4 linked regions of the Homo sapiens genome follow. The protein of the gene in region 1 interacts with the protein of each later gene in a pairwise test. Each region holds a gene or a part of one and is shown in the gene's direction. Other genes may lie near its edges. The genes, in order: DERL1, SCN3B, UBE2J1 and SLC10A6.

Region 1 (6,971 bases):
CTGTTCTTCCTCCAGATCTCCACACTGCTTGCTCTTTCACCACCCTGAGACGTGTACTCAATATCTTCTGAGTTTGCAGTGAGGCCTTCCCTCACCAGCCCAAATCTCCTTTTCTTCTTTTTTCTTTTCCTATTCCTATTGCCAGTTTACCTACTGTACATGTTACTTTTTTTTTTTTTTTTTTTGAGAGGAGTTTCGCTCTTGTTGCCCAGGCTGGAGTGCAATGGCGCAATCTCAGCTCACTGCAAACTTCACCTCCCGAGTTCAAGTGATTCTCCTGCCTCAGCCTCCTGAGTAGCTGGGATTACAGGCGCATGCCACCATGCCCGGTTAATTTTTGTATTTTCAGTAGAGACGGGGTTTCCCCATGTTGGCCAGGCTGGTCTCGAACTCCTGACCTCAGGTGATCTGCCCACCTTGGCCTCCCAAAAGTGCTGGGATCACAGGCGTGAGCCACCGCGCCCAGCCTGTACATCTTACTTTTATCTCTTTCTGTTGTCTTTCTGCCTCCTCTAGAATGTAAGTTCCAAGAGGGTGGAGATAATTGTCAGTTTAGTTCACTGTTTAGAACTGTTATTGGTATATAACAAGCACTGGACAAAAGCATTGCTGAATAAATGAATGAAAGAGCACCACCTTTGGGCTGGGCGTGGTGGCTCATGCCTGTAGTCCCAGCGCTTTGGGAGGCCGAGGTGTGTGGATCACTTGAGGCCAGGGGTTTGGAACCAGCCTGGCCAACATAGCGAAACCCTGTCTCTACTAAAAATACAAAAAAGTAGCCAGGCATGGTGGTGGACACCTGTAATTCTGGCTACTTGGCAGGCTGAGGCAGGAGGATTGCTTGAACCCAGGAGGCGGAGTTTGCAGTGAGCCGAGATTGCGCCACTGGCACTCCAGCCTGGGTGACAGAAGCGAGAGGGAGACGCTGTCTCAAGAAAAAAAAAGAAAAAAAAAAGCACCACCTTTGGCTTTAAATAGATCTGGGTTGAAGTTTTATATATGCACCTGCCGGCAAGTGCCAAGTTACTTAACTTCTCTAAGGCTGTTTCTTCATTTGTAAATGGAAATAAAAGTACTTCATAGGGTTGAAGCATTGTTGTAAAGACTAATTAAAACCATGCCCATAAAGGGCATAGCTGAGTGCCAATCAAACTGTAGACACTCAGCAAATGTTAGATATTAGTAAATAAAAAAGTTAGCTATTAGTATAAAATGTATATGCATAAAGGTATTCATTATAGAACTATATATAGTATTTAAAAACAGGTATCAGAAATAGGAAAATGGTCAAAAGATTCTGCCACATCACTAGTAGAATATTAGTCATTAAAATGATTATTAAGACTTTGTAGAAAGAGAAAGCCTTTAAAAAATAATTATTTAAATAATATTATTAATAAATTAATAATAAATTTAATAAATATTCAATATTATTTAAAAATAATAAATATTTTTAAAAGCCAGTCAAATTTAGCAGTGGGGGGTTGTATACCAACTTTAGTGACACTAATGTTAATAAGTTCTGATAAATCACTACCATCGGACCAGCCAGAAAGCCTTTGAATGTAAAGTTACAAGAAAAGACCAGACATACCTGGCCTACCGTTGCTCTGATTTAAACTTCAGTGTTTCTAAAGGCCGAAGTTGAATTCCAGAGCATTCACTATGAATTCTAGAGCACAACTTAGAAATAAACACTGCCAGGCCGGGCGCGGTGGCTCACGCCTGTAATCCCAGCACTTTGTGAGGCCGAGGCGGGCAGATCATGAGGTCAGGAGATTGAGACCATCTTGGCTAACACGGTGAAACCCCGTCTCTACTAAAAATACAAAAAATTAGCCGGGCGTGCTGGCGGACGCCTGTAGTCTCAGCTACTCGGGAGGCTGTGGCAGCAGAATCGCTTGAACCCGGGAGGCGGAGCTTGCAGTGAGCCGAGATCCCGCCACTGCACTCCAGCCTGGGCGACAGAGCAAGACTCCGTCTCAAAAAAAAAAAAAAAAAAGAAATAAACACTGCCAGATATTGGGTGTACATTTTTCTTGTTCTTGTCTTTTCTCATGCACGTGTACTTTTAAGTTTATCAGAGAAACTTTCCTTAGCCCTCCACCTAAGCCAGATAACCCCTGTTTTCTTTCACTGTACCTTGGTTATGAGTAGTGGGTACAAAACAATGGTGGTGGTAGTAGAGGGAAATAAACAGAATAAACCTCAGGCAATATCGTCAAGTATTATCTGTTATTTATATAAATATCTAGCTTTTATATCAAAATTATCTTTTTGTAAGGCTGTATCAATTTATATTCCCACCAGCTGTGTTCTTCGTAGATTTGCTATCCATTGGTTCCCAAATGTTGTATACTCTCATTACACTGTGGAATATTTAATGCCTTTTTGTTATGAAAAAACTGTTTTTATTAATTAACATCAAGGATATGGTGCTGACAAATATTCTCTAAAATTATGGAATGTTGGAAACTCTGCTGTCTGACATCCTTTCCGTGTGAATGGAACATCCCATTCTTGTCCAGAGCATCTGAGCCATACAGGTCACTTTGACACAGGATTTTCAATACAGGTACAAAGCTTTAGATAGAGTTTTCAGACCCAACGTTTCACATTTGTCGTAATTTTGAGATTTCCAAGGAAAGAGCCTGCTTCCTACTCAGGTCTGATGTTAACCTGATGCTGCACACAGCTCTGCTTTGCTTCGAGTCTATCAAACACTGCTCCAGTTAATTCTTACCAAAAAATCCCCCCATTCCCATAACCCAATAATGACACTTCCGTTTGATGAGAGGCATTGAGGTTCCTCTGGAGTGCAGTCTCCCTTGCTGCAGCAAGTTAATAAATCTAACTTTGTTGACTACAGGTTTGTTCCTGGTGCTCTTTATTGGAAGACTTTAGCAATCTTAAACTGCTGGCCCCAAATCCCAAAACAACGGGAAACTCTACTCAGTATCTTTTCTTTTTTTCTTTTTTTTGAGATGGAGTCTGGCTCTTGTCCCCCAGGCTGGAGTGCAATGGTGCAATCTCGGCTCGCTGTAACCTCCACCTCCCGGGTTCAAGCGATTCTCCTGCCTCAGCCTCCCAAGTAGCTGGGACTACAGGCGCCCTCCACCATGCCCGGCTAATTTTTGTATTTTTAGTAGAGACGGGGTTTCATCATGTTGGCCAGGCTGGTCTCGAACTCCTGACCTCGTGATCCGCCCGCCTCGGCCTCCCAAAGTGCTGGGATTACAGGCGTGAGCCACCGCGCCTGGCCAGTATCTTTTCTTAAAGATTCCTTCTTATACAAGTTGAATTAGACAAGATGGATCATTTTGGCTTTTAGTTCCTCCAACATTCCAACCTAGTTAGAGCGGCTTTTCTCTGTGCATGGAAAATTCTTCCCCCAGATCTCTTGCCTGGCTGGCCCAGTTCATACCTAAGGTAGCCATCTGTCCTCACACTGCCGCACCCCCACCCCGTCACTCCACCTCATCATCTCATTTCATTTTCCTATTTTTCTAATCACTCTCTGAGATTATCTTACTTCATTATCTATTTGTTTATAAATTATCCCAATGAGGATGTTAAGATCAGGAGAGAGGGTACCACGACAGCGCTGACAGCCGCAGCTGCCCAGTGTCTAGAACTGTGCCCAACAAACACTTGTGGAATGAGTAAGCAGACGAGGAACTAGACACTTCGTTTGCCTTCGTCCCCTTTAAATACCCTCCAGGTGGACCCAGCCGCATTAAAACTCTGAGAACTAGGTGAATGGCATTTGGCCTCGCCACTGGCCGGAGCGTTTGCCGTTGATCCAGGCAACCACTGTTTTCCCACCAGTCGTGTAGTCGCTCTACCTGGCTCCGCCCCCCAGGACGCCGAGCCTCGGCCGGGCGGTAAAATCGGCGCTTACCCTTTAAGCGGCGGGACTTCTGGTCACGTCGTCCGCGGTCGCCGGAAGGGGAAGTTTCGCCTCAGAAGGCTGCCTCGCTGGTCCGAATTCGGTGGCGCCACGTCCGCCCGTCTCCGCCTTCTGCATCGCGGCTTCGGCGGCTTCCACCTAGACACCTAACAGTCGCGGAGCCGGCCGCGTCGTGAGGGGGTCGGCACGGGGAGTCGGGCGGTCTTGTGCATCTTGGCTACCTGTGGGTCGAAGATGTCGGACATCGGAGACTGGTTCAGGAGCATCCCGGCGATCACGCGCTATTGGTTCGCCGCCACCGTCGCCGTGCCCTTGGTCGGCAAACTCGGCCTCATCAGCCCGGCCTACCTCTTCCTCTGGCCCGAAGCCTTCCTTTATCGCTTTCAGGTACTTACCGGAGACGGGGGGCGTGGAGACTACAGGCCCCAGGAGGCCCAGCGGCGGCTAAGCGTAGGCTGGCATGTTGCGGGCGCGCGGTGCCTGCTGGGATTTGTAGTGGGTCCGGCGCCGGCGGTTTAGGGCGGGGTCCTTTGGGCCCGGGGAGGCTCTGGGATCTGGAGCGGGGTGCTGGATAGCTGGAGTTGTGGGCTGGCCTGGTGGGGAGGGGTTGACTTCACTGGTATAGTGAGATTGTGCTTCCCGCTCTTCGCACTCAGTGAAGGAAGCAGTGAGATTAGTCGTTGGTAGTTGTCAATCTGTTGGACGCTGGCGATTAGGTCCGCCTGGAGCATTGCCCTCTGACCTCCCTCTGTCACCCACGTGGGTGGCCTGTAGGTGTCAACTTCACCAACTTATAGCTGAGTTCCTTTCACGTTTATGGAGTTTTTTTGTTTTGGTTTTCCTATAGGAGTGATTTAAAGTCAGAGATACAAAGAACGAGTGTATTGTTCTGCATTTCCCTCTAGACCTAATTTAGTGTCCCCCACGTAGTAATAGAATGTACGAAGGAATGGGCAAAGAGTACATTTGTCCAGAAATGGAAGGCCTTGTTATTTTCTTAAGCATGAAGGAAACAGTCCAGAGTAACATTTCTGTCAAGAGAGTGCCAGTTTTCTGAAGGTTATCTGTATTCACCAATTTCTGATTTAAAACTTCAATCAGTGGCAGGTCAGATAGCAAGATCTGGCATTAATTTCAGCCCTTTACTTGGCCTATGGATAACATTTTCTTGTCTTTCCCTGTCTTCACTGGGTGTTACTTCTTGGTTTCCTTTGCTGGTTCCTTATCTTCCTGACTTTTAAATGTTAGGATGTGCCTTGGGAATCAGTTATAGGACCTTTTCTATAGACTCTCCCTAGCTTTAGGTGGTCTCATTCATTCAGCCTCAGGGCTTTACATACTTTCTATAAACTGGAGATTCTGAAATATAAATATAAATATCTTCAGTCCAGATCTGTCTCCCTATTTCCAGATTTGTGCATCCAGCAGTTACTTGAAATCACGACTTGGATGACTAAGAGTCATCTTCATCTTAACGTGTCCAAAACTGAATCCCCTTTCCCCCTTTGCCTTAGAAGTGAATAGCAACTCCGTTATTAGAGGAGCTGAAGTTAATTGTCGGAGTCATCTTTTATTTTTCTTGTTTTTCTCACACCCCACAATCTGTCAGCAAATCCTATTGACTCTACTTGAGACATATATCCAGAATACAATCCCTTTTCATTCTCCATTGCAAGCCATTATCACTGCAATCTGGTTCCTTTCCATCTTTTCTCTAGACAGCTAGAGTGATCCTTTTAAAACCTACATCAAGTCCTGTCTTTCCTCTGTCCAGAATCCTACCATGTCTTCTTAATGAGTAAAATCCAAGTCCTTTCAGTGGCCTGCAAGGCCCCTGCTGCTTCTCTGACCTCATCTCCTACTACTCTCCAACTTGTACCTTAGGCTCCACAATGAGATCCTTGCTGTTACTTCAGTGCTTATCTGGATCTCTCCTCAGGGCCTTTGCACATGTTGTTTCTCTGCCTGAGGAAGATAACCGTGGCTCAGTTGTTTACCTCCTAACCTTCTTCAGATCTCTGCCCAAATGCCGTCTTGTTGACAAGGCCTTCTCTGATGGCCGTACATAAAATAGCCCGTCCTTCACTCCACTCCCTTATCCCTTATCCTTCATTTTTCTTTCTTTCTTTCTTTTTTTTGGAGACGGAGTCTCGCTCTGTTGCCCAGGCTGGAGTGTATATGGCGCAATCTTGGTTCACTGCAACCTCTGTCTCCTGGGTTCAAGCAGTTCTCCTGTCTCAGCCTCCCAAGTAGCTGGAATTACAGGTGCACACCACCATGCCCAGCTAATTTTTGTATTTTAGTAGAGACGGGGTTTCGCCATGTTGGCCAGACTGGTCTTGAACTCCTGACCTCAGGTGATCCACCCGCCTCAGCCTCCCAAAGTGCTGGGATTAGAGGCGTGAGCCACTGAGCCTGGCCTTATCCTTCATTTTTCTTGCTACATATTACCCTTTGGTATTTATTAGTCTGCTTCCCCTCAGAGAATAAGGCTCCATGAGAGCCGTTCACCACTGTCCTTGTTACCTGGAATAGTGCCTGGGACGTAGTAGGTGCTTATATATTAACTGAGTTGTTGGAAGTAATTGGGCACTTGCTGTGTGCTGGGCACTGGGGTACAATAGTAAATAGGACTGAAAAGGTTTCAGAGCCTGTGAAGACATAGAGGCACGTGTTTTAAGGGGTGTAATATTTGATAGGGTGTTCCACCCAGAAAGGCCTCAGAGAAGACATTTGAAGAAATTGGAATACTGAGGAGCCAGCCAGCCAGCTTTGGGTAGATCTGGCTCTGGAGACAACCTTCCAGGAAGGACTAGTAAGTGAAAGGCTCAGAAGTAGGAGCTGGGAACAGGAAGAAGACTGGGTTGCCAGCTGGCACAGGGTCAGCTGTAGGGTGAGGATTAGTAGATGACAGCAGGGAGATAGCCAGGGCTGGGTGTAGTAAAGCTAAGATGGAAAGGTGGGTTAAAGCTAGATCATAGTTGAGCCTTGTAGGTCATGTTAAGAGGTTTGAACTTTATTTTGAGGGCACTATGAAGTCTTTGGAGCCTTGTGAACAAAG
Region 2 (7,040 bases), on another chromosome or scaffold:
CCAGTAGCTGGGACTATAGGCACCACCACCATGCCCAGCTAATTTTGGTATTTTTAGTAGAGACAGAGTTTTGCCATGTTGGCCAGGCTGGTCTCAAACTCCTGACCTCAGGTGATCCACCCACCTCGGCCTCCCAAAGTGCTGGGATTCCAGGTGTGAGCCACCGTGCCTGGTCGGCTGTCATATATTTTGAATACCACCTTGGAGATGACCATTATTTACTCCTTCACTGACTGTGGAGCCAGGCCACCTGGGTTTGATTCTTGACTTCACACTTATTATCACCTCTGTGTCCTTGGACATGTTGGTCATCCTTTCTGTGCCTCGGTTTCCTCATTTTTAAAGTGGGGATATAAAGCATAGCCAAATTATAGGGCTGTTACCAGGACTCATGAGCTATAATTTTTAATGCATTAAAAATAGTTTCTGGAATATAGTAAGCACTGGTAAATGTTTGCTAGAGAAAAGATAGACACAGAAATGAGGAAACTGAGGCTCAAAGAAGTTAAGTTAATAACTAAGACAGCTTTGACTTGAGCCAGGTGGTCTAACAGCAGATACAAGGCCCTTTTTACGGCACTGCTTTGCCTTCCTGGGGGCAAGTTTCTCCTCCACAAAGATTTGTAACAGAGACAATGGAAGGGCGAAACTGGGTTTAGCTTGCTCTTCTTTCTCACTATCCTAAAGCCGAACCCATTTCTAACTCTAGCTTCTATGTGCCATTCTGATGCAGATTTGCAACCGTCTGGTACTAAGACTGGGACCAGCGGAGACTTCCCAGAGCCTGGCTCAGGTGTGACAGTGACACGTCAATGAAGCTGCAACTGAGGCTAGCCCCCAGCTGCAGGAGGCTGGATGTCTTGGCCAGATGCAAAGGCCCCCAGGGCCTTCAGGCCTGGTCATGTACCAGTGATAGCTGCCCACATTGCTTCCAGGCCTGCCCAAAGTGAGGAAAAGGTGGATCAGAAGAAGAAGAAAATGAAAAATAAAACGGCAACAGCAAAACATCCATGGAAATCCACAGCAAGGCTGTCTCATAGAAATGTTTGTGATGGTGGAAACCTTCTCTATCTGTGCTGTGCGATACAGTGGCCACCAGCCACATGTGGCTATGAATAATTGAAATGTGGCCAGTGCCACTGAGGAACTGAATTTTACATTGTATTTAACTTCTAAGAAATTGAATTTAAGTAGCTACATGTGGCTAGTGGAGACTAGAATAGCCAGCACAGCTGTAGAGAGAGAATGGCACATAGAAGCTAGAGTCAGAAATGAGTTTGGCTGTTATGTCAGAGGGTGGAAGTGTTGAGGAAAGAAATTTAAAAGATGATATTTTAGTTAAAATTCAGTCCAAAGCAAAAGATGTGACGTGTGCCTCTCTGGTGATGGCTCTCTGCTCATCTGCCATGCTTCAGCATCCTGGGCCTCCTTCCTGTGGCCTGGCCCAGACTGTCCTACAGCCCCTGATGAGTACCAGCACAGAGAGTCCAGTTTTAAAGCCAGGGCTTTCATATGTCTTCATTACTAATGAATCTGCCTGTCTTGCTGTCTCTACCTTGTTCTCTTGCCAGCGGCTCTGGGACACATCTTACTCTCTTGTTCTCTCTATCTTTTTACAATCCTGTCTTTCTCTCAATGTCCGTCTCCTGGGCTCCCATACTCTTCTCCCGCCTGCCTTTGTTCTCCCTCTTTCCACCCCTTTTTTTCTGCCAAGCTTCTTCCTACACGCCCGTGGCTGCCTCTGTCCTCACCACGTCCACATGCCCTGATGCCTGCTGCCTCTGCCTGTCCTTCCCTGTCTTTGCTCCCTTCCCTACCCTCCTCTGTGCCTCTTCATCCCACCCCCACATTCTGGGTCTCCCGGTGGCATTGTCCCCTCTCTTCCCTGTCCATGCACAATTCTGCTCCTTTTCTCTGCCCTGTCCCTAACTCGGCTTCCCCCCACTGCCATCTCCTTTCCTGGCCCTACCCTCTTCTGCTCCTCTATCTGCAGATTTACGAGTATCGGAATGGCCACCAGGAGGTGGAGAGCCCCTTTCAGGGGCGCCTGCAGTGGAATGGCAGCAAGGACCTGCAGGACGTGTCCATCACTGTGCTCAACGTCACTCTGAACGACTCTGGCCTCTACACCTGCAATGTGTCCCGGGAGTTTGAGTTTGAGGCGCATCGGCCCTTTGTGAAGACGACGCGGCTGATCCCCCTAAGAGTCACCGAGGAGGGTGAGGCTGAGGCACAGGGTCTCTAGGGCGTCCTGCTCTCTGTGGACAGGGAAGGGTAGGACAGCAGTTTTCCACGAGTGAGGCCCTTAAAGAGTGCAAAAACCCATGTATTTGGAATGGTGACATCTAAAAATGTCACCATTGACCCATCTTCTTCTGGTGGCCAGCTTCCTGTAAATTCCCTAAGCAGCTTGTCTTTCTGTGCCTTTCCTCAAAGCAGAAAGGCTTGGAGATGATAGAATGAGCTCTTCCTGGTCCCTTAGAGAAAGAGGCTAGCCTCCATGAGGCCTAAAGCTACTGATTCAGCTAGGCCTTCTTCTTTGGCCTATGTTGAATCCCTGACTCAGTGGGCTCAGAGAAATCTCATGAGGTTACCCGGAAGTCATCTCTCCTTCTACCTGTAAGCAATACATGCCTCTAAGCCAGGGGTTCTCAAACTTTAGCAAACCTCAAAATCTCCTGCAGGGCTTTTTGGAAGCCAGCCTTTCTGCTTTTGTCGGTGGAGCCTGAGAGTTTGCACTGCGTGACACACTGCCTGGCGGGCAGTGCTGCTGCTGGGACCACACCTTGAGAACCTCTCTCTAAACCAAAGTTTGACAATCTTTTTTTCTTTTGTCTTTCTTCACAGTAATCACACGTGCAACCTCTTCCCCATCTGTGGCATCTCTTATTACATAAATTCATTCCCTGCTGGGAGAAGGGGACAGGTTGATAGCTCTCTAGTCTTGTTTAAAATCTTTGGACTCCTACAGCTAGTTCCGTGTTCGTGAGTGGGAAGGCCTTTCAGCAGCCTAACTCAGGTGTTTCTGTTGCAACCGGAGTCCTGCATCCTGAGGGGGGAGTTCCAGCCTTTCTCAGTCTATCTCCAGCATTATCACTGCTAGTGAGCAGGCCAAAGTGTGGGGCATGAAGGAAAAGATCAAGTTAAAGACAGGGCTCTTCCTAGAAAAAAGGATCCAGGAATCCCAACCTCCAGGCCACAGGTTTATTCATTTTTTATCATGTCGTTGTGATAAAAATAATGAAGCGGAGATTCAGTCCTCAGAGTGAATGAACAAAGGAGAAAGAGACATAACGGATCAGACGATATGACTAAAATGGAAGGTAGGTCAATTCTGAAAGTGCAGAGGGACTCTCAGGGCTCCTGAATCCAGACCTGATGAGTCACTTCCCTGCTCGGAGCCCCGCTCCTCTGGTGTGAAATGAAGGGGTTGGCGGGGGGCTCTCTGAGGTACTCCCCTGTTCTGAAGTTCCTTTATCCCCCGTTTGTTACACGCCTTTCCTCTGGGGGGTGGGGCCCTGGCGCCCTCTCCTGGTCACCATCTGGAACTTTTGGTTGGTGCCCGCCAGACCTTAGCACAGTGCTCAGCCGTCTCCACCTCTGCTCTCTCGGGCTTTTGCCTCCAGACACCCTCGTGCATAGCTGGTGGGAAGTGTGGCAAGGCTGAGCTAGTTCGTCTGCCAGGTACCAGAGCAAGCCTCGGGTAAAAACAGAAGGAAAAACAAGTTTATTATCAGAGCCACAGAGCCTCGTGGATGGTCGGGTGTGAAGGAAGCGTGGATATCATTTATTTAATCCAGGGCCTCTGGATAAAGGGCAGACATCAGAATCGCCCACATTGGCGTCCTCCAGATGTAGACACCTCTGCAGCACCCTTGCAGGTGTGAGATCGGCAGGGGTGAGTGAGGTCATATGCAAGTTGATGACTCCCCAGGTGATTGGAGGGTGTAGCTCTGGTGCCCCTCTTTTTGTGGCTGGGAGAACAGAGTTCTCTGCAAGAGCAAGGGGCTTGCTCAGGGACGTGCAGCAAATTCGCGCTGGAAGCAGGGTGAAAATCCAGATTGTTCGCCTGTCTGGAGGGCTTGCTTTCCACTGTTTCTTTCCCCACCCCCACCACCCCAACCCCCTGCCACTTTTTCTTTTTTGCCTCTGTGACATCAGATACTCCCTGCCCTCATCTTGCTCAGAGCTACGCACCCACCCCACCATGACACCTGCCCATCAACCCCACATCTCCTCCATTCCTGTGGTCCCACAAGGTCTCCCTGGTTCTCTTTGTTCAAGTTGGGTTTATTCTGGCTTTGGCTGTCACCTCCTGGCCCTAAGGCAGAAACCTGAGGCCTCTTCACCTAGAGGTAACTAAAAATACTGAGGACAGCTTCCTGTATTGCCATTTGTGGGCTACTGCATTTTGAAAGAGAGAGCATGCTTTAAGCCAAACAAATCATAAATAATGCACGAGGTGGTAGCAAGGCGGTGAGATGTTTGAGCTGTACGGCATTCTCATGTGCCTCACGCTGCATCTATGACCTCTAGCTCCAGTTGGAAACCTGGGTGATCCTGGAGCCTTCGGACTGCTCTCTGGGCTGAAAGTTATGGCAGGCTGTGCTGTGCTCTTAACAACCAAGGACTTGGGGATGACTTAGATCCAATGGATAACTGCAGATCATAAATCTGACTTGCTGTTGAGAGCTGGCAAGGGGAGAGGTGGCTACAACATTTCTCCCACTAGCAAGGAGTAGATATATCAGGATATCTGCCATGTAGTATGTTTTAATGGTCCTTTTTGTTGATCATGAAACAAATAAGATAATATTTATTTTCACTCATTCAATAAGTACTTATTGAGCACTTTAAATATTCTAAGATTTATACAGCAGGCAGATAATCCAGAAATAAATATGTTCTCAATAAGCACACAGTCCACAGAAAAGAAAGATAAGCACAATACAACTCTTATAACAGATGGATGAGAAAAGTGCATGGAGGCCAGACGCGGTGGCTCACGCCTGTAATCCCAGCACGTTGGGAGGCCAGGGCAGGAGGATCACCTGAGGTGAGGAGTTCGAGACCAGCCTGGCCAACATGGTGAAACTCCGTCTCTACTAAAAGTATAAAAAATTAGCTGGGCATGGTGGTGGGTGCCTGTAATGTCAGCTACTTGGGAGACTGAGGCAGGAGAATCGCTTGAACCTGGGAGGCGGAGATTGCAGTGAGCCGAGATCATGCCACTGCACTGCAACCTGGGCAACAAGAGCAAAGCTCCATCTCAAAAAAAAAAGAGAAAAGAAAAGTGCACGGAGAAGGTTGTGAATAGCTCCGCATGAGAAGTTGGGGATGGTTTCACAAAGGAGGGGACCTCACAGGAATCTAGAACTACTGCGAGACTGCAAAGCAGGAGAGGATATTAGCACAGAACTAGCCGTGGGTGAAAGACACAATTCAGGAAGAGGGAAGAGGAAGAAAAGTTCACAGATTCTAACATACCACAGTGTGTAGCAGAAGTTTTTCTGGCCAACCAAATGGAAATGAGGTGAGAAAGCCCGGATTGTGAAGGCCCTTGCATGTCACGTGAACAGAGTTGGGGCTTCATCCTAAGGGGAGTGTGGAGCATTGAAGAGTTTTCAGCAGGGAAATGGCAGGATCCTAACTGTGTTTCAAAAGTACAGCCCTGGGGACAATGCGGTTGATACACTAAATCCTCCAATATTTATGTTTGGTTTTGGATGACCTGGAAGGTCTTGTTTCTAACCCAGACTTGTAGAGAACATGCGCATATCTCATGGAGGCTGTCTTTGTTGGCCCTGAATGAGTTTTCCAACGCTCTCTCCCCAGGAATACCACCCTCCACCACCGGCAGCTCAAAAGACAGAGGCAGTTGAAATAAGGCATGTTCCTTACATCTGTGTAGACTTTTAATCTCACAAGATGTTCTGAAATACATTAGATAATGTAATATTCACAAACCCCTGACTGGTGTTATTATCCTCAACCTACAAATTAAGAAACTGAGTCTCAAGTAAGGGAAATGGTTGTTTACACACCTGTAAATAGCAAAATGGACAGCCAGCTCTAGATATCTCACTTTGAGGCCAGGATTCCTTCCACTGCTCGGCTACTTCTTCCAGGCATCCCACTCCCTCTTCCCTGGCTCCTGAGCAGCTGATGACAGTCAGTGAGAAAGCCAATGGGCGGGAGAGTCAGGATTTGGAATACCTTTGACATCTTCTTGAGTTTCTTTACTCAGTCTTTATTTAAGCTGTACTTAAAAATATGGCTCCAATGACGGCTCTAGGTTTGCTGGATTTGCATATTCTGAACCTCATTCTCTTTCTTTCAGCTGGAGAGGACTTCACCTCTGTGGTCTCAGAAATCATGATGTACATCCTTCTGGTCTTCCTCACCTTGTGGCTGCTCATCGAGATGATATATTGCTACAGAAAGGTCTCAAAAGCCGAAGAGGCAGCCCAAGAAAACGCGTAAGTCCAGAGATGCCAAAGTAATAATGAAAGCTAGCACCTTCAGAATGCTTGCTCTCACAGGTGAGGTGCTAAGCAGTTTACATTCATCCTCCACCCTCTTCATGATCACTGCTTAAGAGATAGGCACCATTATTATACCCATTTTACAGATGAGAACACTGAATTTCGGAGAGTTGGCTTAAGGCAAACTCTTAATTCATTACGAAAAATTAAACATTTGCTTAATTCAAACATCACTTAGGAAACAAAGTGATGTTTGAATTCAGGCCTGTTGATTCTTGGCCAGCACACTTAACCACTAAGGCAAAGACCATCAGCTGCTACCACAACCCGTTAAAGTAATATTATTATGGCTGGGCATGATGGCTGTCACGCCTGTAATCTCAGCACTTTGGGAGGCTGAGGCGGGAGGATCACCTGAGGTCAGGAGTTCAAGACCAGTCTGACCAACATGGTGAAATCCCGTCTCTACTAAAAGTATAAAAAATTAGCTGGGCATGGTGGCACATACCTGTAATCCCAGCTACTCGGGAGGCTGAGGCAGGAGAATCCCTTGAA
Region 3 (2,638 bases), on another chromosome or scaffold:
TAGAAAACCTCAGGGCCCAAGTAACAGTGATAGAAGTTAGAAAAACCTTTACTTAGAATTGTCCACCTAGTCAGAGCCCAAGAAAGAATTTTCAGTGGAAAAATCAATATATAACTTAGTGCTAGCTAGCGCCACAGACTCTAGTAGATAATATTATCATCATAATGGCTGGTGAAACCATATAATCACAGAAAAACATTGCCTTCAGCATGTTCAGTTCGCAGCACTGAGGGCACTCTTGAGGGTGTTGTTAATGAAGATTTAATTTTTAAATACAGGTGGTTCCAAGCTTTCAAATAGGTTATGCTCCAAAAGTGTTATTTGTAAGTTAATTTTTTTACAAGTCAAACAATGTTGGAAGTGGTATTTAGGTTCTAGATCGGTCCACGAAAGTTAGCCCATATGTATATCTTGAATAGTATAGGGGAGGGTATTCATAAAGTCCTTATGTGGTTTTAACTAAGTGAAATTATGGACAAGAGAAATAATTGTAAAATCGTCTTAAAGGAAAATTTAATTTTTACTCCTGTTTATGGGACATTCGTTCTATTAACTGTCAGACACAATTTCTGTTTTCATCTGAGAGCCAGTTTTCCTTTATTTCTACATCTAAAATAAGAACATATTGTACACTATTATATAATACAGAATTGTCTTAAACTTTAATAAATTCGCATTTTAAAGGTGTTTACAGATTATTTTTTATATCTGTAGCTGAATTTGTTAAAGTCTAAAAAGCTCAAGGACTTTATGAAGATCTCATTATATGAGGAAAATCATAGGTTACCATTTTATAACTCTATTGCCATAAGAAAATACACTCTAAAATCTTGATTTGAAACATATTAGAAACCTTGATTCAGTGCTCAGTGGTCTCCTAGTAAGAAGTCACCGACGGTAGCGTCATATGAGAAGAAAGAAATCCCCACCACCTCAACCTCTGCTGAGATTGTGTGCTAGGAACAGCCTTCCCTCCGTTTCCCCTCAGTCAAACTTGAGCCAGCCTCTGGATCGATGTGATCTTATTGCATGTTTCCATGGGGTGTACCTATACTTTAAGCCAATCCTGCTGCATTCACTGCTAAGTTAAATAAAAAGCCAAGAAGATTTTGCACTGTGCAGATCCTTTGCTATCTGACTTGCATCTCTTCCCCCACCTGTCAGCTAGCCACCTGCTTGTTTGTGTTGGGATATTTTTTAGCACCTGAAGCACCATCTGAAAGGGGCACCATTTTCTTCTTCCCTTTGATCTCACATATGCTCCCTAAAAATCCTTAAGTTGTCAATCTGATCCCCAGTGTGAGGTTAATGAGCAAAATTGGTCTTTGGGGCCCTTTTTGTCCAAGCCCCACTGAAAGGCCTCTTCAGAAAACTATTATCTTTAAAGCCCTACTTTAACTCCTTAATTCCAGCATACAGCTAAAACTGGATGTATATTCTGGCAAGTAAAGGCTGAGGACTCCTCTTTAATCCTCAGATCTAGATAACTCATGACATTTTATTTGACCAACATAGCACATGATGAGATATCAAGGTAATTAAAATAGCATGCTTGAAAAAAAAATACGTAATCTGTTTCACCTGTAACTGTTTAAGCCAATAAACTTTTCAAAATTTATGTAATGTGGGGCTTTTATGTAGCACTTTACGTTTTCATGCTGCTTATTGTTTTATTCTACTGAAAAAAATGAATTTCAAGATTCTCAACTTTTTTAATTTCAAAAATTGTTTATTGTTTTGACTATAGGAATACAAAATTTCCTATTTTGGGAGAATAAGAACTCTTTTTGTCATTTTTGGCTATGAATAAACTTTCTGGTCTTTTGAGACCACCCATTTTTATAGATCAGAATCAGAAAACAGGTAAACCTCACTCACACATTTGGACTCATTTGAACAAAAATCTAGGCCAAAATACTGAAAAGCCTATGTGTTTTTTTAATTGGAAGTATATGTAAGGTTAATGCATTTAGTGAACGTGACTAACAAAGACTAATGTGCACATTAACAGATGTACTTTTTAAGGTTTTATGGGAGGCTGTGCATTGCTCAAAAGCTGTTGGGAACGCCTTCTGAACAGTTGCCTTCAGAACTAGTTTGAGCTGCTCAATAAAACCAGTGACTTTACTCATACCTTGTTTTTGACCAAAGGTTGTATTCTTTACATCATCCAGTCTTGTCTCTCATCCATTCTACCTCCTAGAATATTTCTCTCTCATCTTTCCACTTCCCTAACTAGGCACTATATCCTATTTAGCTATTAACTCCTCCAAATTGGTGCAGTAACCTCCTAACAGGTCTCTAGTCTCACCCCATTCCTTACATTGCAGCCAGAGTTTTCAATATACAGACCTGATCTCTTCTCTCCTGTTGCTCTTAGATAGGGTGAAACCCTTAACATAAAGCACAAGGCTGTGCATGACTAGAGTCCCACCTAGGTGTCTGGCATAATCAGACCTCAGCAAATGCCTTTGGGGCCTTCCCACAGCTCTGACCTCGATCCACTGGGGCTATACCCTGCCCTGAGAAAAATGAGTAAATAAAGTTATACCATCCACTACCTCATACACCATATAAGAAAATTAACTCAAAATGGATCAAAGGCCTAAATGTAAGAGTTAAAACTATAAAATTCTTG
Region 4 (7,040 bases), on another chromosome or scaffold:
CTCAAACTCCTGAGCTCAAGCCATCCTCCTGCCTCAGCCTCCCGAGTAGCTGGGACTACAGGTGTGTACCACCACATTCAGCTAATTTTTGTACTTTTTTTTTTTTTTTTTTTGTAGAGACCAGGGTCTCTCTATGTTGCTCAGGCTGTTGTTAAACTCCTGGTCTTAAGCAATCCTCCCAATTCAGCCTCCCAAATTGCTGGAATTACAGGCATGAGGCACTGCACCTGGTCTGATTCCTTTAAAAAGAAAAAATAATGAAAGAAAAAAATCCTATTGATTTAACAAACAATCATGAAATAAATGGACTGCTTAAAAGAAAAATAAAAGAGTAGAAGGATGTACACAAATACTTGCAAGTTATCTAAGTTTGGATTTCTGAAAGGAGCACCAATCAGCTAAATATTTGCTTCTTAAAATTTTACTTGCTTTTGTCTGGGAAGAGCATAATTTTTTTTTTTTTTTTTTTTTTTTGAGACACTGTCACCCAGGCTGGAGTGCAATGGCATGATCTCGGCTCACTGCAACCTCCATCTCCCAGGCTCAAGCAATTCTCCTGCCTCAGCCTCCCGAGTAGCTGGGATTACAGGCGTGTGCCACCATGCCCGGCTAATTTTTGTATTTTTTTTAGAGATGGGGTTTCACCATGTTGGCCAAGCTGGTCTCGAACTCCTGACCTCAGGTAATCTGCACGCCTTGGCCTCCCAAAGTGCTGGGATTACAGGCATGAGCCACCATGCCCTGCTGGGAGAGCATAATTTTATAGAAAGTCTCTTTTTCTGGATTGCTATGGGGCTGTTTACCATTTGAACTAAGTATAAAGGGGTCATTTCAGTAAGATTTTTACCAATGTTCACCTGGAGATACGTGACATATGACGGAGACAGAGAGAATATTTCCATAGCACCAGTGTGTTGACATTGGTTCATTCTTTGATTCATACATTTATTCAGTAAGTATTTAACGAGCTCTTCCAATATGCTGCAGCGTGAGACTATGCCAGGTCTCCTAGAGATGGAGAGGAAAATAGGACCTGGCTGTCATGCCACTCACTCTGGCACAGATGGACAGGTACATAAGTACTTGTGTAGGGTACAGCATGTGTATAATTCATGAGCCAATGTCAATAAAACCATGTCCAGAGGGCCATGGATTCAGAATCCTAGAAGCAGGATCGCTAATTTTCCTAGATATTGCCAGACACCCTCTGTGGTGTACCATTTTTACCAGCAATGAGTGAGAGCACAGAGGGAATCTTTTTAGTATCATTGAAGTAAAACAGATGCTGCTTTGTCAAGAGTATAAACATTCTTCTGGCAGAAAATGTTAAAGTAGTCATAGACGTATTATTTTATAGACAGGGTAATTGGATGGAAGCAATGGTGATATATATTAGGAGGAAGAGTGACAGATGACTTGTAGACCCAATAAAGTGCTGAAGGACCTTCTGTCTATGCAGAAGACCTTGACGTATGAAGGGCCTCCTCCCTCTCCTTTGTAGAGCAGGAGGGCAGTCTGCTTCTCAGTCTGTCAGTCATTTGTGCCTTGAGCACAGAATGAGCACAGTGTCTATAAACAGTTTGTACATGCTTAAACAGATTGTGTAATTTTTTCCAGCAAATTGAAAGATAAAATATTTGACTGGTCTGATGGGTATCTTCTTTCCATTTATTTTCTTTCCCCTAATTTTACTAATGCATTCTTTCACTGGTTCTATCACTCAGGTAGGTACAAAATACAGCCTTAACTTGCGATTTGGGAGTGAGACTGAGATGGAAAGAATAGATTTGGGATGGAAGGCACCAAAAAGTGGGGTAAGGTTGAATATTTCTTCAGTTCTCATCCTCCCTGATTTTTATTGGCTTTTAGCCTTCATTTGGGAGCTTTCTTTTCTTAGCTTTCATGAAATATAACCTCCCAGCTCTCCACTGACTTCTTTTTTAAATTTTATTTTTAATTGACAAGTTAAATTATGTATATTTATGGTGTACAACATGATGTTTTGCTTACTTGCTTCTCAAATCCCAGCCTGCCTGCCTGCCTTCCTTCCTTCCTTCCTTCCTTCCTTCCTTCCTTCCTTCCTTCCTTCCTTCCTTTCTTTTTCTTTCTTTCTTTCTTTCTTTCTTTCTTTCTTTCTTTCTTTCTTTCTTTCTTTCTTTCTCTCTCTCTCTCTCTCTCTCTCTCTACATGCACCATGGGCTCTTCTTCCTCTCCCTGGTTTAGAGCAAAGGAGGCTTTACAATATATAAAATATTAACTATCAGTTAATGTAACTAAGTGCTTTTCCCTAAATAAATTTAGACCAAAAATATATATGGAAAATACAAAAACACAGTATATTATGGCCGGGCGTGGTGGCTCATGCACTTTAGGAGGCCGAGGCGGGTGGATCACCTGAGGTTAGGAGTTCGAGACAGCCTGGCCAACATGGTGAAATCCCATCTCTACTAAAAATACAAAAATTACCTGGGTGTGGTGGTGGGCATCTGTAATCCCAGCTACTCAGGAGGCTGAGGCAGGAGAATCACTTGAACCCAGGAGGTGGAGGTTGCAGTGAGCCGAGATTGCGCCACTGCACTCCAGCCTGGGCGACAGAGTGGGACTCCATTTCAAAAAACAAAACAAAACAAAACCCCAAAAAATCTGCAACAAATTACAAATGTGTGAAGCAGTAACTTAGTTCATATAATGTAATAACAATATAGTAATTGTCTTAGTCCATTTTGTGCTGCTGTACAGGATACCTGAGACTGGTTAATGTATAGAGAAGAGAAATTATTCCCTTACATTCTGGAGGCTGGGAAGTCTAAGATGAAGGTGCTGGCATCTATTGTCTGGTGAGGTCCTTCTTGCTCCTCACGTGGTGGAAGAGAGAAGGGCAAAAAGGAACAAACTTCCTTGGTGGAGTCCTCTTAAAATAGCATTAATTCATTCATGAAGGTGGATTCATTGTGACCTAAACACCTCCCAGAAAGCTCCACCTCTCAATACTGTTGTCTTAGGGATTTGATTTCCAACCTATGAATTTTGGAGGACACATTCAGACCATAGCAGTAATCACGATACACAGTTTTTGAGGACTTCAAACCAAGTACTCTTCCCCCTCTGTCACAGACATTATGTACTTAAAAGTTCTTAAGAACCATTGCGCTTAAAATGTGTTAGCCTTTTGACTTAGAAACAATTAACCTCAATAATAACAGAGATAAACAAACCAGTTTTCCAGTAGAAATCATTCTGGATTTGTTGAACAAAGACCACAACTTCCTTCTGATGGTCTCAGTTGTTTTCCTGGTAAAGCTATGTAGCATGGCTGTTGGTTTTGGTTTGGTTCGTCCGGCTCACAAACCCACATTTCACTTTCCAAGGTGGCCAGAGACAACCCCAGTAATGACACAGATAAACAGACTGATTGTCTTTAGAAATCTTTCCAGGTTTGTTCACCAAAGACTGGATGTCCCACTATCACCTTACTTAACACAACCCCTCTAACTGATGCTAAGTGACTCAGCTTTTTTGTATATCACACCATCATTTTGAAGCCTAGAAATCTTACTTTGTACTCTAACTCATCACTCTACTTCAATCTCAAATCTCAGTCCCTTCCTTTTCTTTTCTTTTCTTTCTCTCTCTCTCTCTCTTTCTTTCTTTCTTTCTTCTCCTTTTCTTTCTTTTCTTCTTTTCTTGTGTCTTTTCGTCTTTCTGTCTTTCTTTTTTTTTGAGATGGAGTTTCACTTTGTTGCCCAGGCTGGAGTGCAGTGGCATGATCGTGGCTCACTGCAACCTCCGCCTCCTGGGTCCAAGTGATTCTCCTGCCTTAGCCTACCAAGTAGCTGGGATTACAGGCACCTGCCACCACACCCAGCTAATTTTTGTATTGTTAGTAGAGACAGGGTTTCACCATGTTGGCCAGGCTGGTCTCGAACTTCTGACCTCAGGTCATCTGCCCGCCTTGGCCTCCCAAAGTGCTGGGATTACAGGCATGAGCCACCATGCTTGGCCCAATCACAGTTTCTAATCATAGGATCACACGATATCAGGATTGGAACAGAATTCTTAATTCAGTCTAGCATCTCACATCAGTTCCCTTTCTCTGTGGTTCTGTACCTTCCCTTGCCCTAACCAACTTGCTCTGTCTGCAGGTCAGCGACTGTGGGGGTCACTGCCCTATCCAATGGGGAGCTTATGGCATGTGGTGTTTGCGTGACTTCTTCCTGACAGATATTTATTAACACTTCATACTGGGCAGGCGTTCAGTCAGCTTTGTGGCATTCTAACTTGCTGATGTGGTTTGGGTGTTTGTCCTCTCCACATCTCATGTTGAAATGTGATTCCAGTATTGGAGGTGGGGCCTGGTGGGAGGCTATTGGATCATGGGGTGGATCTCTCATGAATGGTTAATGCCATCTCCTTGGTGATAAGTGAGTTCTTGCTTAGTTAGTTCACATGAGATCTGGTTGTTTAAAAGTCTGGGACCTCCCCTTTCTCACTCTCCCTTGCTCCCTCTCTGGCCATGTGAGATACCTGCTCCCCCTTCCCCTTTGCCTTCTACCATGATTGCGAACTTCCTGAGGTCCTTACCAGGAGCACATGCTGGAACCATGCTTGTACAGCCTGCAGAACTATGAATCTCCTTTATAAATTACCCAGCCTCAGGTATTTCTTTATGGCCATGCAAACAGCCTAATACACTTCCAATCCCCTTGGTACCAGAACTAGATATCACAAGAAAAGAAAACTGCAGATCAATAGTTCTTATGAATATACATGCAAAAATTTTCAATAAAAATACTATCACACTGAATCTAGCAACATAAAGGATTATACACCATGACCAAATATGATTTATTTCAAAATGCAAGGTTGATTCAATATACAGAAAAATCAATGTGATATACTATATTAATAGAATAAGGACATAAAAAGAATGAAGCTGTGATATATGTTAAAACATGGATAAACCTTGTCTTAGCCCATGTGAGTTGCCATGAAGGAATACCTGAGGGTAGGTAATTTCTAAATAAAACAGGTTTATTTGGCTCGAGGGTCTGCAGGCTGTACACAAGAAGCAAAGTGCCAGCATCTGCATCTGGTGAGGGCCTCATGAAGACCCCACCCATGGTGGAAGGGGAAGAGGAGCAGGCATCACATGGTAAGAGAGGGGAGGGAGGTGTCAGACTCTTTTTAACAACTAGAGCTCATAAGAACTGAGTGAGAACTCAGTGAATCCCACGAGAATGGCACCAGCCTGTTCATGAGGGATCTGCCCCTGTGACCGAAATATTTCCCACTTGCCCCCGCCTCCAACGTTGGGAATCAAATTTCAACATGAGAGTTGGAGAGGACAAACAGCCAAACTATTATCAAACGTCGAAAATGTTATGCTAAGGGAAAGAAGCTAGACACAGAAAAAAGGCTGCATGTATGATTCTGTTGATATGAAATGTCCAGAACAGGTAATCCTATAAAGACGGAAAGTAGATTTGTGCTTGCTAAGGGCTAGGGGAAGGAGGGATTGGGGAGTGACTGCTAATGGGGATGGGGTTTCTTTCTGGGGTGATGAAACTATCCTGGAAATGGTGCTATTATTGCATAATGTTGTGACTATACTAAAAACTGCTGAATTGTATAATTTAAAATGATGAATTTTATGGCTTGTGGATTATACTTCAATAAAAAAGAACTAGATAAGAAAATAATTCTATAGTGCCTAGCAGAATTTTAAGGCAAGTAGATAGTAAAATAAATATGAGGTAATTGATGGATGACAAGAACTACTGGAAATCTCTTTGTAGACCAGAAATATAGCCATCGTTTGTTAAACAACGGGAGAGAAATGAGCTCCAAGGAGCTTAGTCCATGTAATCTCTAGGAAATTGTGTCCTAGGAGTTGCTTTTGGTAAAGACTAAATTCTTCATGTCCAATGCTCCCTCCTAAGCATTGTATTAATTTTACTTTCAGCATCAGTATGACAACCTGTTCCACCGTGGCCGCCCTGGGAATGATGCCACTCTGCATTTATCTCTACACCTGGTCCTGGAGTCTTCAGCAGAATCTCACCATTCCTTATCAGAACATAGGTCTGTATGGGCCTGGGAAATGGAGGACTAACAGTAATGGTGATGATACTAATAATAGCTGTTCTTAATTATATAACTCTTTATGCAGGGATTTTTTTGGTAGTACTTAATTTAATCCCTTAAAGAACCCTACAGTATAGATTCTGTTACCAGTTCAGTCTCCTAGGTCTTCAGGCTTCAAGAGGTTTAGTAACTTGATCAAGATTATGCAGCTGGTAAGTACGGAACTGGAGTTCTAACCCGGGAATCTGACTACAAAGTGCAAACTTTCATCCCTATAAGAGTGCATTTTTGAAAAAAAAAGAAAGCCAGATAATTTACTTTGAAAAAGCAGGAATCAAACCCTTATGTAATTAGACTATAAAGCAATTGGACTCTTTATACTCCAAGGTTTAACTGGATCTAGTGGCTCTAATTAGACCTTCCTGTGACTTCACCTTTCACATTGCCTGCGAACCTTGACTTTTTCTTGGAGGTTGAATGTAAATAATTCTTACTGATTATGAAAACTCATCTACATGTCACAGTCTCACCCATATCTCTTTCATTATCTCCTCTTCTGAATATTATTTCTCATGAAAGTCTGCCATTTTCCTAAAGATCTCTGTGGGTTTAGCAAGCTTAGAAGAGAAATGTGGTGAAATGATCTGCCTTTTCTAGTGTGGTCAGTTTTTGAAAAAGTGATAGGCACTATGTTTTTTTGTTTTTTTTTTTTGAGACAGAGTTTTGCTCTGTCACTCAGGCTGGAGTGCAGTCGTGCAATCTCGGCTCACTGCAACTTCTGCCTTCTCCTGCCTCAGCCTTCCGAGTAGCTGGTACTACAGGTGCAGGCCACCACACCCGGCTAATTTTTTTGGTATTTTAGGAGAGACAGGGTTTCACCGTGTTGCCCAGGCTGGTCTCAAACTCCTGAGCTCAGGCAGTCCACCCACCTTGGCCTCCCAAAGTGCTAGGATTAC

Evidence for each region.
Region 2: the proteins of DERL1 (region 1) and SCN3B interact in binary tests that used the Homo sapiens proteins (3 or more experiments, as listed by UniProt).
Region 3: the proteins of DERL1 (region 1) and UBE2J1 interact in binary tests that used the Homo sapiens proteins (3 or more experiments, as listed by UniProt).
Region 4: the proteins of DERL1 (region 1) and SLC10A6 interact in binary tests that used the Homo sapiens proteins (3 or more experiments, as listed by UniProt).

Annotation. Positions count from the first base shown.
Region 1 is NC_000008.11:123,039,296-123,046,266, reverse strand, and holds the start of DERL1 (derlin-1), read left to right. Parts: upstream 1-3,964; 5' UTR 3,965-4,144; coding exon 4,145-4,297; intron 4,298-6,971. UniProt on the Homo sapiens protein: Functional component of endoplasmic reticulum-associated degradation (ERAD) for misfolded lumenal proteins. Forms homotetramers which encircle a large channel traversing the endoplasmic reticulum (ER) membrane.
Region 2 is NC_000011.10:123,637,625-123,644,664, reverse strand, and holds part of SCN3B (sodium channel regulatory subunit beta-3 precursor), read left to right. Parts: intron 1-1,993; coding exon 1,994-2,219; intron 2,220-3,190; exon of another isoform or gene 3,191-3,698; intron 3,699-6,044; exon of another isoform or gene 6,045-6,126; intron 6,127-6,340; coding exon 6,341-6,479; intron 6,480-7,040. UniProt on the Homo sapiens protein: Regulatory subunit of multiple voltage-gated sodium (Nav) channels directly mediating the depolarization of excitable membranes.
Region 3 is NC_000006.12:89,326,120-89,328,757, reverse strand, and holds the end of UBE2J1 (ubiquitin-conjugating enzyme E2 J1), read left to right. Parts: 3' UTR 1-2,133; downstream 2,134-2,638. UniProt on the Homo sapiens protein: Catalyzes the covalent attachment of ubiquitin to other proteins. Functions in the selective degradation of misfolded membrane proteins from the endoplasmic reticulum (ERAD) and is essential for cells to recover from ER stress.
Region 4 is NC_000004.12:86,832,347-86,839,386, reverse strand, and holds part of SLC10A6 (sodium-dependent organic anion transporter), read left to right. Parts: intron 1-5,962; coding exon 5,963-6,081; intron 6,082-7,040. UniProt on the Homo sapiens protein: Transports sulfoconjugated steroid hormones from the extracellular compartment into the cytosol in a sodium-dependent manner without hydrolysis.